Homo sapiens: one gene and its partners. The protein of the gene in region 2 purifies or fractionates together with the protein of the main gene of each other region. This does not show direct contact. Each region holds a gene or a part of one and is shown on either strand. Other genes may lie near its edges.

The links. Proteins that work in one complex are often made in the same cells at the same time.
Region 1: the proteins of LTK (region 2) and RALY purify together in Homo sapiens (affinity purification with mass spectrometry; one large-scale study listed by BioGRID and IntAct). This does not show direct contact.
Region 3: the proteins of LTK (region 2) and MRPL1 purify together in Homo sapiens (affinity purification with mass spectrometry; one large-scale study listed by BioGRID and IntAct). This does not show direct contact.
Region 4: the proteins of LTK (region 2) and SFXN1 purify together in Homo sapiens (affinity purification with mass spectrometry; one large-scale study listed by BioGRID and IntAct). This does not show direct contact.

The regions. Positions count from the first base shown.
Region 1 is NC_000020.11:34,083,148-34,085,384, forward strand, and holds the end of RALY (RNA-binding protein Raly), read left to right. Parts: 3' UTR 1-1,737; downstream 1,738-2,237. UniProt on the Homo sapiens protein: RNA-binding protein that acts as a transcriptional cofactor for cholesterol biosynthetic genes in the liver. Binds the lipid-responsive non-coding RNA LeXis and is required for LeXis-mediated effect on cholesterogenesis.
Region 2 is NC_000015.10:41,506,376-41,511,803, forward strand, and holds part of LTK (leukocyte tyrosine kinase receptor isoform 1 precursor), read right to left. Parts: intron 5,204-5,428; coding exon 5,047-5,203; intron 5,034-5,046; exon of another isoform or gene 4,972-5,033; coding exon 4,789-4,971; intron 2,755-4,788; coding exon 2,656-2,754; intron 1,862-2,655; coding exon of another isoform or gene 1,847-1,861; coding exon 1,694-1,846; intron 1,283-1,693; coding exon 1,187-1,282; coding exon of another isoform or gene 1,139-1,186; intron 1,089-1,138; exon of another isoform or gene 1,070-1,088; intron 916-1,069; coding exon 720-915; intron 1-719. UniProt on the Homo sapiens protein: Receptor with a tyrosine-protein kinase activity. Following activation by ALKAL1 or ALKAL2 ligands at the cell surface, transduces an extracellular signal into an intracellular response.
Region 3 is NC_000004.12:77,897,330-77,900,829, reverse strand, and holds part of MRPL1 (large ribosomal subunit protein uL1m precursor), read right to left. Parts: intron 1-3,500.
Region 4 is NC_000005.10:175,485,060-175,488,559, reverse strand, and holds part of SFXN1 (sideroflexin-1), read right to left. Parts: intron 1-3,500. UniProt on the Homo sapiens protein: Amino acid transporter importing serine, an essential substrate of the mitochondrial branch of the one-carbon pathway, into mitochondria.

The DNA.
Region 1 (2,237 bases), on a different chromosome or scaffold from region 2:
AAATTTAGTAGCCTTAATAAACATTTATTAGCTCCTGAGTGAGTGGCTTGGCAGTTTGGGCTGTGTTCAGTGTGGTGGTTCTTATCTCATCTGGGCCCTCGTGTGGCTGAAGTGAGCTGGCAGATCAGCTGGGGACTGGCTGGTCTCAGATGGCCTCGCCCGCCTGTCAGGTGGTTGGCTGGGCAACTGGGCCACACGTTCCAGCATCTAGCAGGCTGACCCAGGATTCTAGACATCATGGCTGAGTTCCAAAAACCGCAAGAGAAGACAAGCCCAGTATGCGAGTGCTCTTGAGGATATTGCTATGACGTATCTTTTGGCCAAAGTAAGTCACATGGCTAAGCCCAAATTCTTCTTAACAGGAGGAGCTTCAAAATATGGCCATATTTAAAAAATCTACCTCAGGACTCATTTCACTTGCCAACTCAGAACTTTTAGTAGCAGCTGCCTGGAGTGCCTTTTGAGGATCTGCAGCAATTTTCAGACTGTTTGGAAATACTGACATGATAGTTTGGCAGTTTCTCTTATGAGCATGGAATTCAAGTGTGGGCACGTGAGCGTCAGGTATTTGCCATCCCTGGCCAGGTTGACCCGTAAGGTCATAACCTGCCCCATAGGATGTTATATGCAGTAGGCCTGTCTGACAAGACCACAGAAATAGAGAAGGCAAAGCAGAGCAAAAGATTCTGAGCCAGGCATCCTTGGTTTTCATCCCAACCAGATCATTGATTGATTGAGGTTTTAGGCAAATCAAAATCCCTCCACCAGTAGCCAGATTCTTCATAATAAACTTCCTCCATAACAGTAAACCATTTCCTGAACACCTGCTGTTAAAAAGCACATTTTACATTTACTTAATCTCCACAACCACCCTCAGTAGGTGTAGTAAGGACTTCTGGTTACAAGTTACAGAAACTGAATTCAGTCCTGCTTAGTGGGAGGAAGTTTATTGGCTCACAAATTGTAAAGTCCAGGGATCTTCAGACATGGGGACTTGGGTTCAAAAGCTGCCATCGAGAATCCGGTTAGCCAGGCATGGTGACACGTGCCTGTAGTCCCCGCTACTTGGGGGACTACAGTGGGAGATCATTTGCACCTAGGAGGTTAATGCTGCGGTGAGCCATGATCCTGCCGCTGCACTCCAGCCTGGGTGACAAAGCGAGACCCCAACTCAAGGGGAAAAAATCTGGTTTTCGGGCAGGTTCCAAGAAGTGGTAGAGCATGGCCATAGGGCCTGTGAGAATAGAGGGACAGAGGGGAGAATCCCCAAAAGGAGAGCAAGGCTTGGCTAACAAAAACAGGCATCCACTGTGTGGTTATGTCTATTCTATAGATTTTGTAGATGAGGTTTAAAAGCATGGCCCCAAGTAAAGGTGGCATCTCTATCCTATCCTCGCCTTTATCTAAACTCTGTGACCGATCAATAGCATATGATGGTGGTGGTGCTCTGCCAGTCTCCCAGTCCCAGACTGAAGCACTAGCAGCTTCCACTTATTATCTCTTGGGACTCTAGCTCTTGGGACCCAACCACCATGCTGTGAAGCAGCCCAGGCCACACAGAGAGGCCACGTGTACATGTTCAGCTGACAGCAGTATCAAATGTCAGACATGAGAGAGGAAGGCTTCAAGATGACTCCAGCCCAGCCACCGTCTGAGAACAAAGTAAGAACTGCCTCACTGATGCCATTCAAAGCCCAGCACCATGAGAGATAATAAAACGTTGTTTGAAGATGCTAACTTTTGGAGTGATTTGTTGTATCAGTAGATAACCAGGACACAGGCCCACAGAGGTTCAGTAGCTTGCTGTGCTTCTCAGGGGGCTAGGTTAAGAGTATAGGTTTTGTTGCTGGGCGCGGTGGCTCACGCCTGTAATCCCAACACTTTGGGAGGCCAAGGCGGGCAGATCACGAGGTCAGGAGACCGAGACCATCCTGGCTAACACGGCGAAACCCCGTCTCTACTAAAAATACAAAAAAATTAGCCGGGTGTGGTGGCGGGCGCTTGTAGTCCCAGCTACTTGGGAGGCTGAGGCAGGAGAATGGTGTGAAGCTGGGAGGTGGAGCTTGCAGTGAGCCAAGATCGCGCCACTGCACTCCAGCCTGGGCGACAGAGCAAGACTCCGTCTCTTGCTGACTCTTACCCATATGCCTGCATCTGTCTACCCTCTTTTCTATGTACTTGCTCCCTGGATGACTTCATCCGTGGCTTCAGACTCCACTCATGGCTCCATAATCTTC
Region 2 (5,428 bases):
CTCACTGCAACCTCTGCCTCTCGGGTTCAAGTGATTCTCCTGCCTCAGTCTCCCGAGTAGCTGGGACTACAGGCAAGCGCCACAACGCCCAGCTATTTTTTGTGTTTTTAGTAGACACAGGGTTTCACCATGTTGGCCAGGCTGGTCTCGAACCCCTGACCTCAGGTGATCCACCTGCCTTGGCCTCCCAAAGTGCTGAGATTACAGGCGCCAGATCATATTTTTTTTTTATTGAGACAGAGTCTCACTCTGTCGCCCTGGCTGGAGTGCAATGGCGCAATCTCGGCTCACCACAACCTCCGCCTCCCAGGTTCAAGTGATTCTTCTGCCTCAGCCTCCCACGTAGCTGGGATTACAGGCATGCGCCACCATGCCCAGCTAATTTTGTATTTTTAGTAGAGATGGGGTTTCTCCATGTTGGTCAGGCTGGTCTCGAACTCCCGACCTCAGGTGACCTGCCTGCCTCGACCTCCCAAAGTTCTGGGATTACAGGTGTGAGCCACCACGCCCAGCTGAGAGATCATATTCTAAGAACTGGGACGGAGAGGTGACATTGAGCAAGTTACTTCCCCTTCTGGAGCTTCTCAGGGCCTCCCTCTCCCTTACACAAGGGATGTGGGCCAGATTTTTTCTGGGACTTATAATTCACTACAGCAGGGAGAGAATCAGAGGTGGGGATTCAGAGTGCATAGGTTCTCAGAAGGAGGCAGAAGACTTACCTGAGCAGAGTAACATTGGCTGGGGAAACCTCGGTGACACCTGGTGGCAGAGGCCAGGACTGGGCCGGGCCAAGCCCCACCTGGCAATAATAGGGATTGGGGGCTGTCCTGATGGCAGAGGTTCGAAGCTTGCTCAGCTCAAGCTCAGGGCTCGGCAGCCTCATCTCCTGCAGGCCCTGCCACTTCTTCTGCTTCACTGGGGGTGGGAAGAATAACGGCACACCCTCCACCTGCCCATCAACTCTCCCTCCCCCACCTGCCCAGGACACCCCTCCAGATGCTCATTAAGGTAAACGTTTTCCCCAGGCCTCCCCAGCTCCTTCCTATCTTAGAATCCCAGAGGAGTCTACCACGGCTCTGCTGCGGTGAGTGGTCTTGAAGTCAGCCCCGGGACCCCGCAGAAACCCATCCCAGCTCACTGGAGAGGAGCAGCCTTGAATCAACTGTGCCTGCTAGACGCTTCGTACCCAGAATCAGGACCCCACACACCATAAGGAGGCTCAGTGTTGAGGTTGCCACCACAGCCACCATCAGAACCAGAGGGCCTGGGGGCTTGTGCAGGTCTAGGGAGAAAGAGAGACACCTCCAGTGGGAAGGTCTTCTCTGTTCCTTTACCCTCAAGTTTTACCCACGCTTCAAGACTCAGCTCAAGTGTTAATTTTTCCATGATGCCTTCCCCCATTATCCTGGGCAAAAGCAACCTCTCCCTCTTGAACACCCCTAAAGCACTTTATACCTCCCACAACAATCGTCACTTGAGATATACATTTACATAGCTATATCTAAACATCCTCCCACACTGGACGACAGGCCTCTGAAAGGCACTGTGCACCGATGAATCTCCAATCCCCTGCCCAGCACCCACCACAGGGCCTGGCACACAGCAAATCTCTATACCATCTTTCCCAGTGGCCTACTGCTCCTCCCAGTCTGTGACCCCAGGAGTCCAGACCTTGGGCAAAGGTAGGACATACCCATGCAGGTGACGTTATCCACAGCTAGCTCCATGCCTTCTGGGCACAGGCATTCAGCCAGCTGGAGCTCTGCCTGCCATTGGCAGTCTCTCAAAGGGCAGTGACTGCAGTTGAGGTGCCTTCGGATCTCTACCTCTCCGTGGTTCTCGGTGACTGTGAGTAAAAGAACTGATATGATATGGTGTGGTAGGGCTGGGATATAGTAAATACATGCCTTTGGCTGGGTACAGTGGCACACGCCTATAATCATTGCACTTTGGGAGGCCGTGGTGAGCGGATCACCGGAGGTCAGAAGTTCAAGACCAGCCTGGCCAACCCCGCCTCTACTAAAAATACAAAATTAGCCGGGTGTGGTGGCGCACGCCTGCAATCCCAGCTACTCCAGCACTGAGGCTGCAGAATCACTTGAACCCGGGAGGCGGAGGTTGCAGTGACCCAAGATCGCACCACTGCACTCCAGCCTGGGTGACAGAGCGAGACTCTGTCTCAAAAATAAAAATAAATAAATAAATAAATAAATAAATAAATAAATAAATACATGCCTTTTCCAGCCACATGGTTAATTCTAGCCCAGGACTTTAGAGCAAAGAGCAGCACCAAGCTTACAAGGGTGGTGAGAGAAGCTGGGGGACTTCTGTCAAGCCTGCACACTCCCAGGTATTTGAAGCGAATTCATAGCAAGGGGGTACTTGAAAAGCACGCAGCATGCCCTGCATTGCCATCCAGCACGACTGGCAGCCCACTTTCCTTTTTTTTAAGACAGAGTTTTGCTCTTGTCGCCCAGGCTGGAGTGCAATGGCATGATGACAGCCCACTTTTCAAATGACCCTATGCTATGCAAGAATCCTGTGCTATGCAAGGTTATTCACAGTGCAGGTGGCTCTTCAGTGCAGTGCAGGAGTGGGCTCAGGGACTGCGGAAGAAGTCCAGGCCAGGCTCAGAGGTGGGGTTGGGGCCAATACCTGCCAGAGGCTGCAGGAAGAGCTCGCTGCTGGGGTGTATGAAGGATACTCCATCTTCCCCATCAGCCCAGAGGTTGTCAGTCTCTGAAGCGTCGCCCCCTGGAAGTGGAGAGTGATGGAGAGTTTGACTACAAAAATGGGGGATGGGGGAGAAGCTGGAATCTCCCGGTGGAAATCCCAGTGTGGCCCTCTCTTCTCCAGCATCATGATGCAAATGCTGTCTGTTCACAAGTGGGAGTGAAGGAGGTGAGGAGGGGGTAATCAGCTGGAGCCTGAAGGCCTCGCTGAGGCTGGCTGGGATGCCTCCTGCCTGCCTGAGCCCCTCCTGTCCCATGTCCTCACAGTCCCTTTCTGTGAGAATGTAGATCATGTGTGTATGTATGAGCAGTACAGCCCAGACAGGCACAAAGGCATTTACACTAGTTATTTGATCAAAACACAGATGACTGGGACTCTCCCTTACAGTTTCTGATTCAGTATGTTAGAGAAGGGCTGAGAATTCGCATTTCTTTTTAAAAATTAATTTTTAATTAAAAATAAAAATTCAGGGCCAGGTGTGGTGGCTCACGCCTGTAATCCCAGCACTTTGGGAGGCCGACATGGGCGGATTACGAGGTCAGGAGTCCGAGACTAGCCTGACCAACATGGTGAAACCCCATCTCTACTAAAAATACAAAAATTAGCCGGGCATGGTGGCGCATGCCTATAATCCCAGCTACTCAGGAGGCTGAGGCAGGAGAATTGCTTGAACCCGGGAGGCGGAGGTTGCAGTGAGCTGAGATTTGTACTACTGCACTCCAGCCTGGGCAACAGAGCCAGACTCCATCTAAAAAAAAAATTCATATATTTATTGTATACAGCATGATGTTTTGAAATATGTACACACTGTGCAATGGCTAATGCAAACCAATATATACACCACCTCACATGCTTATTTTCTGTGGTAAGAACACCTATAATCTACGCTCTTACCAATTTTCTTTTCTTTTTTTTTGAGACAGAGTCTTGCTCTGTCACCCAGGCTGGAGTGCAGTGGCACGATCTTGGCTCACTGCAACCTCCGCCTCCCGGGTTCAAGCGATTTTCCTGTCTCAGCTTCCCGAGTAGCTGGGACTACAGGCATATGCCACCACGCCCGGCTAATTTTTGTATTTTTAGTACAGATGGGGGTTTCACCATATTGGCCAGGCTGGCCTCAAACTCCTGACCTCAAGATCCACCCGCCTCCGCCGCCCAAAGTGTTGAGATTACAGGCGTGAGCCACCGCGCCCCGCCTCTCTTAGCGATTTTCAAGAATACATCGTCATTAACTACAGTCACCATGTAGTACAGTAGATTCTGGAAGGTATTCCTCCTATTTAACTGCCATTTTGCATTGTTTTGACCAGCATCTCCCCAACCTTCCCCCAACTCCCAGGATAATTTCCATTGTTTTTTTTTTAATCTTTGAGACAGAATTTCCCTCTTGTCGCCCAGGCTGAAGTGCAATGGAGTGATCTCGGCTCACTGCAACCTCCGCCTCCCAGGTTCAAGCAATTCTCCTGCCTCAGCCTCCAGAGTAGCTGGGATTACAGGCTCCCGCCACCACGCCCGGCTAATTTTTGTATTTTTAGTACAGACAGGGTTTCACAGGTTGGCCAGACTGGTCTCGAACTGGTGACCTCAGGTGATCCACCTGCCTTGGCCTCCCAGAGTGCTAGAATTACAGGCGTGAGCCACCAGGCCCAGCTGATAATGTGCATTTCGAACAACTTAGGTTGTGGGGATATTACCTGTTCCTGGACCACACTTTGAGAACCACTGACTTAACCCAATCCTGCCTTTCTGCCCCTTTGCTCAGCTTGCTCACTCGGCCAGCTCTAAGTTCTGAAGACTGCTGCAGAACAAGGCAGGGACCTGCTGTGATGGGAAAGATCCTGGATTAAACGGAAATCTAGGGAGTCCTGTCTGCATGCTGATTTGCAGTGTATTTGACCTCCTTTTCTAAGAGCTCCTGCTTTTTGTTTGGAGCTGCTGAGCAGGGCTTAATGCCTCTCCCACACCTATCCTCCCGAGGGCTCCGGCCTGTACTTAGGTTCTAACATCACCTCACCCTCGGGCCTGCTCAGCTGCCCTCTCCAACGGTGCACCTACCCCTGTAGCCGCCGCCGCCTCCGCCCGCAGTGCAGGCCCCGCCGCCGCCCCCGAAGCCGCCGGCCGCGGCCCAGCCAAGGGTCGCCCAAGCCTCGGAGCAGCCCTGGCCGCCCTCCGCCCCCTCCTGCAGTGAGCGGCCGGCCTGCGGAGAGGGAGCCCGCGACGTCCAGCCGCCCCCACCACCTGCAGAGCGACAGCAGGAAGGTTGGCAGCCACACGGGGAGCACGCCCGCCTCTCCCCGCGGCCCGCGCCCTCACCTGCCGCCCCGCCTCTCCCGCCGCTCCCGGGCGCCTCCGAGCGGTTCTCCAGTTTCTCGGGGGAGGCCTGAGTCCGGCCTCGGTCCCGCGGCCTCAGGTAGGCCCGACCGCCGCCTCCGGCCGCCACCAGCAACGGTTCCAGCTCGCCAGCGCGCACCTGTGGGGCCAGCGGCGTGTTCCAGGAAGCGCCCTCCAGCTGTCCAGGGGCACTGCCACTGGGAGAGGGCTCCCGCCCAGGGGGCCTGGATAAGGGCAGGGGCCCCCAGCCCAGCCCAGGCCAGCCCAGCCCAGCGCAGGGATAGGGGGACCCCAAGGGACGGACGGAGAGCCGGTGCGTGAGCGCCCCTGGGGAGAGGATTGGGACCCCAACGCTGAGCGCCGA
Region 3 (3,500 bases), on a different chromosome or scaffold from region 2:
CTCATATGGCTACCCTACCACTTATACAGTTCTCACAATACTCATTCTGATAAGCAAATCTTACATCATTCTTCTGAGCTAAAGTTTTCAATGGCTCCTATTTGCAAAGAGGATAAAATCTAATCTCCATGGTATAGCACACAAAGCCTGCTGTGACCTAGCCCACTGTCTATCACTGTCCAATCCCATTGACCACCAGTATCTGATAACATTTTATATACCAAATGATAGAAAGCTGCTTATAATTTCTTGAACACTACTGGCTCTCTCATACTTTTGTATATGTAAAATGGCCATTTCCTCTGCCTGATTCATGTAAGGAAAGCAAATGCCTATTCATGCTTAACCTCTCAACTGCAGTCTTCTTTATATAATCTCATTCTACAAAGCAGTCCCTCATTCCTCTACAATACTTTGTACATTTTCTACCAATAAACTTATTGCATTTTAGTGCAGCAGTTTGCTCTCATCTCTCTCTCCTCAGTGTTTATCTTCTTAAAGACAGAAAATGTCTTTTCAGTTTATTTTTCAATCCTCAGTACTAAGTGTAGTCAGCTGGCACATAGGTAGGCATGCCAATAATTATCTGCTTTTTCAACAAATAAGTTATGAAGGTGATATATAAATACATGAAAAAGAATAGCTTCTCCTAAAGTAATTGTGGAGAATGAATAGCTACTTTAGGAATGATAGGGAGCTAATGATAATCATAGTGGCCCACACATCATATGTTATGTACCCAGCTTGTGCTTCATACATTATCACAAAAACAGTATGGGATGGATGTTATAATGAAACTCATTTTGTAGATGAATAAATAAGGCACAAAATGTTAAAAAGTTTGCTCAAGGTCACAGTAACTGACAAAGACAAGACAAAGAGAGATCTATACTAACCACTATTCTACTCTGCTTTTCAATACAGGCAAATGTTAAATCATCACTGCTATTTCTAGGGCTTTGCTATCCCTTACTGCTATTTAACTGCTTTCCTCTTTCTCCACTTTCACTTTTCTCTGTGTTTTTAGGCTCTTCTTTCTTCATTTTCTTTCTTCCTTTCACTTTCTTTTCCTTTAATTCTCTATTCAATTTCCATAATGAACATAACCTATACTATACGATCAAGTATTTCCTCCTAAAATACCTTCTCTTTTCTTTTTTTAATCAAGGAAAACAAAGAAGAAATAGTTAGAAAAGAGGTGAGTTAGGACTGCATACATTACCTCCTGAAAGAAGTTGCAAGAAACAGAGAAAACTAAGAACAGACCTTTGAATATGGCAAAAGAAAAACCTGTGATAACTGAGAGAGCAATATTTTAGCTAAATTATGGAAGAAAAAGCTGTAAGGAATACTAATGCTTAGTAAGAAAATGAAGCCAATTGCTGAAGACCATTATTTGAAAAACTTAACATAAAACACATAAAAAACTAAGATCGCAGCTGGAAAGGATAGTTGAATCAAATGAAGGTGCGGGGGGGCTCGTGATTTGCTTTTTGTTTGTTTAAAGAAATCTGAGCATAAATGGCCAGGCATGGTTGCACATGCCTGTAATCCCAGCACTTTGGGAGACTGCAGCAGGTAGATCACTTGAGCTCATGAGTTCAAGACCAGCCTGGCCAACATGGCAAAACCCCGTCTCTACTGAAAATACAAAAAAAAAAAAAAAAAATGAGCCAGGCGTGGCAGCACATGCCTGTAGTCCCAGCTATTCTGGTGGCTGAGGCAAGAGAATCACCTGAACCCAGGAGGCAGAGGTTGCAGTGAGACAAGATCATGTCTCTGCACTCCAGCCTGGGTGACAGAACGAGACTCTGTCTCAAAAAAAAAAAAAAAAAAAAAATCTGTGCATAAGTAACTGTAAAAAGTTAAACTAGTTTCTCTACTGCAGAAAACAAAACTGTTAGTTCTATGACCGCAAGAACTTTGTCTGTCTTGTTCACTGCTATCACACCCAAGGCTTGGCACATAGTAGATACTCAACTACTATAAATACAATTATTCTGATAAAAAAAAAACTATAAATTGTATATAGTCCAAGCTGGGTGCGGTGGCTCACGCATGTAATCCCAGCACTTTGGGAAGCTGAGGGATGTGGATCATTTGAGGTCAGGAGTTTGAGACCAGCCTGGCCAACATGGTGAAACCCCATCTCTACTAAAAATACAAAAAAAATTACCTGGGCATGGTGGCGCACACCTGTAATCTCAGCTACTCAGGAGGCTGAGGCAGGAGAATTGTATGAACCCGGGAAGGGGAGGTTGCAGTGAGCCGAGATGTGCCACTGCGCTCCAGCCTGGGCAACAGAGCAAAACTCCGTCTCAAAAAAAAAAAAATTGTATACTCCATTTTTAAGTTACAGTTTAATTTTATATCTTCTACCAACTGAATGAGTGCTGGATTAAACATTCATTCATTCATTCATTCATTCATTCATTCAAATATTTGTAGAGTACGTACTATTTTCCAGGTACTATACTCTAGGCAATGGGAATGTAGCAATGGACAAAACAAAACCATCTTTGCTCTAATGAGAGGCACTGAACACACATCACACACACACACACAAAAAAAAGATGCTAAGAGTGATATGTCCTAAAATGAATACAAAAGCATAATAATGATATTTAGTGATAATAGGAAGTGGTAGTAATATTTTATATAGGATGGTCATGGAAGGTCTCTCTGTTTAGATGATGTTCGAATGAGAAAGTGAGCAAGGCAAGTAAGCAAACAGTACTACTACAGACCTATGCAACAGTAAATCCAAAGACCTGAGGAGGGAGAGTGCTTAGTGTGTATGAGGAAGATCAAGGAGGCTGCCAAGGCTGAAGTAAAGGAAGCAAAGGAAAGCATAACAGAACCAGCTATAATAGATCCATATTTCATCTACAACAATTGTAACAGTACCTAATCATTAATGGAGTCTTTCATACATGGATAGTTTTTAAACTAATATGTGAAGGGGCAGAAATTTAGAAAAATTTCAAATTCATTACCTTGCAAAAATTCTCCGTTTTGGTTATTTTCCCTTATATAACCAAAACTTCTGATTGTTCCAATAATGCAAACAAAACCCTGAAGTACAAGGTACTATTCTATGAGTTAAAAATGCTACACATTACAAGAACTTTAATATCCATGAGTCTCACGTATGATACAACACCAAATTCCTCACGGAAAGCAGTGTCCTGCTCATATGTGGATATCTTTTGGACAAGTCTGCTGGGATATCGTTTGGACAAGACATCGAGTGGAGCACTAGTGTTCAATTCTAAGAGTTAGAAGTTAAGAGGAATACACATTAGTGTAATTCTAATTTTCTAATCATGTCCCTTTCTTACCTGACAATAACTTAGTATGGTATAAAAGAATTCAACTGTTCCCATATATGCCACAGTACCTATCACAGGTTAATATGCATAATAAACATCTGATACCATTAAGTCAAGATTTTTTTTTGGCTGGGCACAGTGGTTCACGCCTGTAATCCCAGCACTTTG
Region 4 (3,500 bases), on a different chromosome or scaffold from region 2:
TGGAAGGCCGAGGCGGGCGGATCACCTGAGGTCAGGAGTTCGAGACCAGCCTCAACATGGAGAAACCCTGTCTCTACTAAAAATACAAAATTAGTCAGGCGTGGTGGTGCATGCATGTAATCCCAGCTACTCGGGAGGCTGAGGCAGGAGAGTGGCTTGAACCTGGGAGGCGGAGATGGCGGTGAGCCGAGATCGTGCCATTGCACTCCAGCCTGGGCAACAAGAGCGAAACTCCGTCTCAAAAAAAAAAAAAAGAAATGCATCTGGTGTCTTCAAAGAATAGCAAGAAGGCATGAGCTGGGGCGGAGTGAGGAAGTGGGAGATGGGAGATGAGGAGGTAAGAGATGTAATGGCTCAGGTTGGAGTCAGATGATGTGGGTTATGGAGCCACTGTAAGGCCTTTGCATTTCACTCTGCAACAAATGGGAGTCACTGGAAGGTTCTGATGAGAGGACCGAAATGAACGGACGCACAATTTAAAAGGATCTCTCTGGCTGCTGTGTGGAGAACAGACAGTGGGGAGATAAGAGCGGACACAGGAGGAACAGTGACAAGGTTACTGCAGAGATCCAGACAGAGCTGGGGGGCAGCGCAGGTGGCAAGAGGTACTGGAATTCTGGGTATTTCTTCAATGGTGCCAGCAGGATTTCTTGACATCTTAGATGTGGGATGTGAGAGAAAGAAAAAGCATGGTTCCTGAGGTATTTAGTTGGAAAAACTGGAGGTGGAGAGGGCCGAGGGAGAAGACAGGAAGCTCAGATTTGCACGGAGTAAGCGTGAGGCACCCAGGAGGCAGCAAGTGGAGATGTCCAGCGGGCAGCAGAGTAAGTAGGTCTAAGTTCAGGGGAGAAGTGTAATCTGGAGATTATCCGTGGGAGTTGTCAGACAGAGATTATATTTAAAGTCATGCGATGTGATGAGATCACCAGGGAAGTGAAGGTAAATAAAGAGATCCAAGGACTGTGGTGTGAAGAGGTCAGAAAGGACTGAAGGCACAGCAAAGTGGGCTGGGGAGTGACTGGTGGGTGCAAAACCAGGAGAGAGTGGCATCCTGAAAGATGAGAGGTAAATCTATTGGTAGCCCGACTGGCCAAAAGGAAGACACCTTGGTAGCCGGTCACTTCCATTTCTGGATAGTGAAGCGGGAGGAGGTGGATTTAACAGCAATGATGGTGGTAGCAAGAGGAACAACACGTTAAACCTCCCCTCCTTGGGAAACCGTTTATTCCTGCAAAGCTGCTAGTGCAGACTGATGGTTCTGCACCAATGGAACACATCAAAATCACCTGGAGAGCTTCTTATAAAGACAAATACTATCCTCCTTCTAGAGGTTCTGATCCAGGAGGTCCAGCATAAGGCTGGGCGTGGGATTCAGCATGGCTCTGGGTGTGGACTTCATGCTGGACGGACACCAGGCTGTGGCTGTACATGAGGCCGTGAGCCATTTCCTTCCCTGCACCCTTCTTTACCCTCCTGTGCCTGCCCTCGGGCCTAGGTGATCTGTGATGTTCCCCGGTGAAGATCTGATATGGGTTTTTCTCAGAAAATTGAATACCAAGGAATCTCTCTTCCCTTTTAACTATAATTCTCACTATCACTATTTTTCCTTCATGCTTAACATAAATAATGAAAACAAAAATTAATATGTAGCTTTTATAGAATTCTAGTTCCTAATAACAAACTATCCCTAATTTGTTAAATATAAGGCAACCTTTAGGGCAAGCTGCCGCCATCACGGTCTCATTTTAGAATTGGTTACTTTATTATTTATTTATTTATTTTGAGACAGGGTCTCACTCTGTCACCCAGGCTGGAGTGCAGTGGTGCAATCATAGCTCACTGCAGCCTTGACGTCCTGGGCTCAGGTGATCCTCCCACCTCAGCCTCCCGAGCAGCTAGGACTACAGGCGTCTGCCACCATGTCCAGCTAGTTTCTGTTTTTTTAAATTTTTGTACTGGTTGTAGAGACAGGGTTTCACTCTATTGCCCAGGCTGGTCTCGAACTCCCGGGCTCAAGTGATCTGCCCACCCTGGCCTCCAAAATGCTGGGATTACAGGTGTGATTCCCTGCACCCAGCCAAAAATATGGTTACTCTATAAAATATAAGTATTATCATGTATAAGAACTGGATAGTCTGAAAAATGATTTATCCAATGCGCTTATTATGCGGAAGCTGAGGTCCAGAGGGGAAATAACTTGCCCAGGTTGCATGGCAGATGCTGGCAGCAGAAACAAGTCCGGGAGAACTCAAAGCAGGAGCAGCCTCCAGGGCACTGGCCAGCTTTCCACTCACCACTCTTTTCTAGCCATTTTTCTTGAAGTATGACACCAATTAATGTCTGCAGAGAAATGATATCTTGGAGGCCCCCCCACTTTTTTCCTTTAAATAAAAACTTGACCTTTACACTATGAAGTTCTATACTACAATAACCTTAAGGTTACTCTAAGTACAAGTGATCAAGAATGCTGTGGAGGCCTCACAAAAGATGTCTTCCTTTGTAGGCGAGGAAAAAGGAGAGAGAGGGAGAGGGGAACCCTAACATCTTAAGAATTTCCATTATATACAAGGAATTGGGCTAGATGCTGGCCTAAGCTTGCCACATCAGAGAATATTCTACCTCATTTCTCACGACAATAGTGTGATTCAGACATCCTATGCACATTCCGCAGACGGAAGAATCAGATTCTGGGATGTCATTCAAAGCCACCCCATCTTTCCAGCAAGGGAAGCAGCAGGAGTTCTTGACGCCAACTACTTATCTGCACACTCCAGTTAAACCCACCGAAATCCTGGCACTGGAAGCGCCCACTGCATGTTACCCATGATGGGGAGAACAATGGCTGCCAAAGATGTCTCATTCTAATCCCCAGAAGCTGTGAGAAGGTCTAATAAAAAATGCTGCTATCTTTAGTATCTATTTATTGAGCACCTACTACTGTGAATATGTTACCTCACATGGTGCAGGGACTTTGCTGATATGATTAAGTTAAGGATCTTGAGAGATGCAGGCATGATCCTGGAATATTTGGTTGGCCCAATGTCATCACAAGGCTCCCTATAAGAGATGGAAGGAGGCAGAAGAGGCAGAGCCAGAGAAACAGATGTGGGAACAAGCAGAGGTTGGAGTGATGCTGGGCTGTGAGCTGCAGCCCCTAGCAGCTGGAAAGGGCAGGGAAAGGGGCTCTGCCCTAGAGCCTCCAGAAGGAAGGCCCACTTGTTCTAGACTTCTGACCTCCAGAACTCTAAGATAATATATCTGTGTTGCTTTAAGCTACTCAAATATGTAGTAATTTGTTATAACAGCAATAGGAAATGAATACAACACTGTTTCCTCTACTTAAAAGGGATTTCAAGTTGTACTATAGTGGCATAAGAAATACCAACTGGATTTGATAATCTGTGTTCCTCTGCACCCAGAATTAAAAATCAAACAAACAAACATACAGACTAATCAGGAATGCCACATTAGCATTCTCACAAAAACAGCTGATCTCAAAT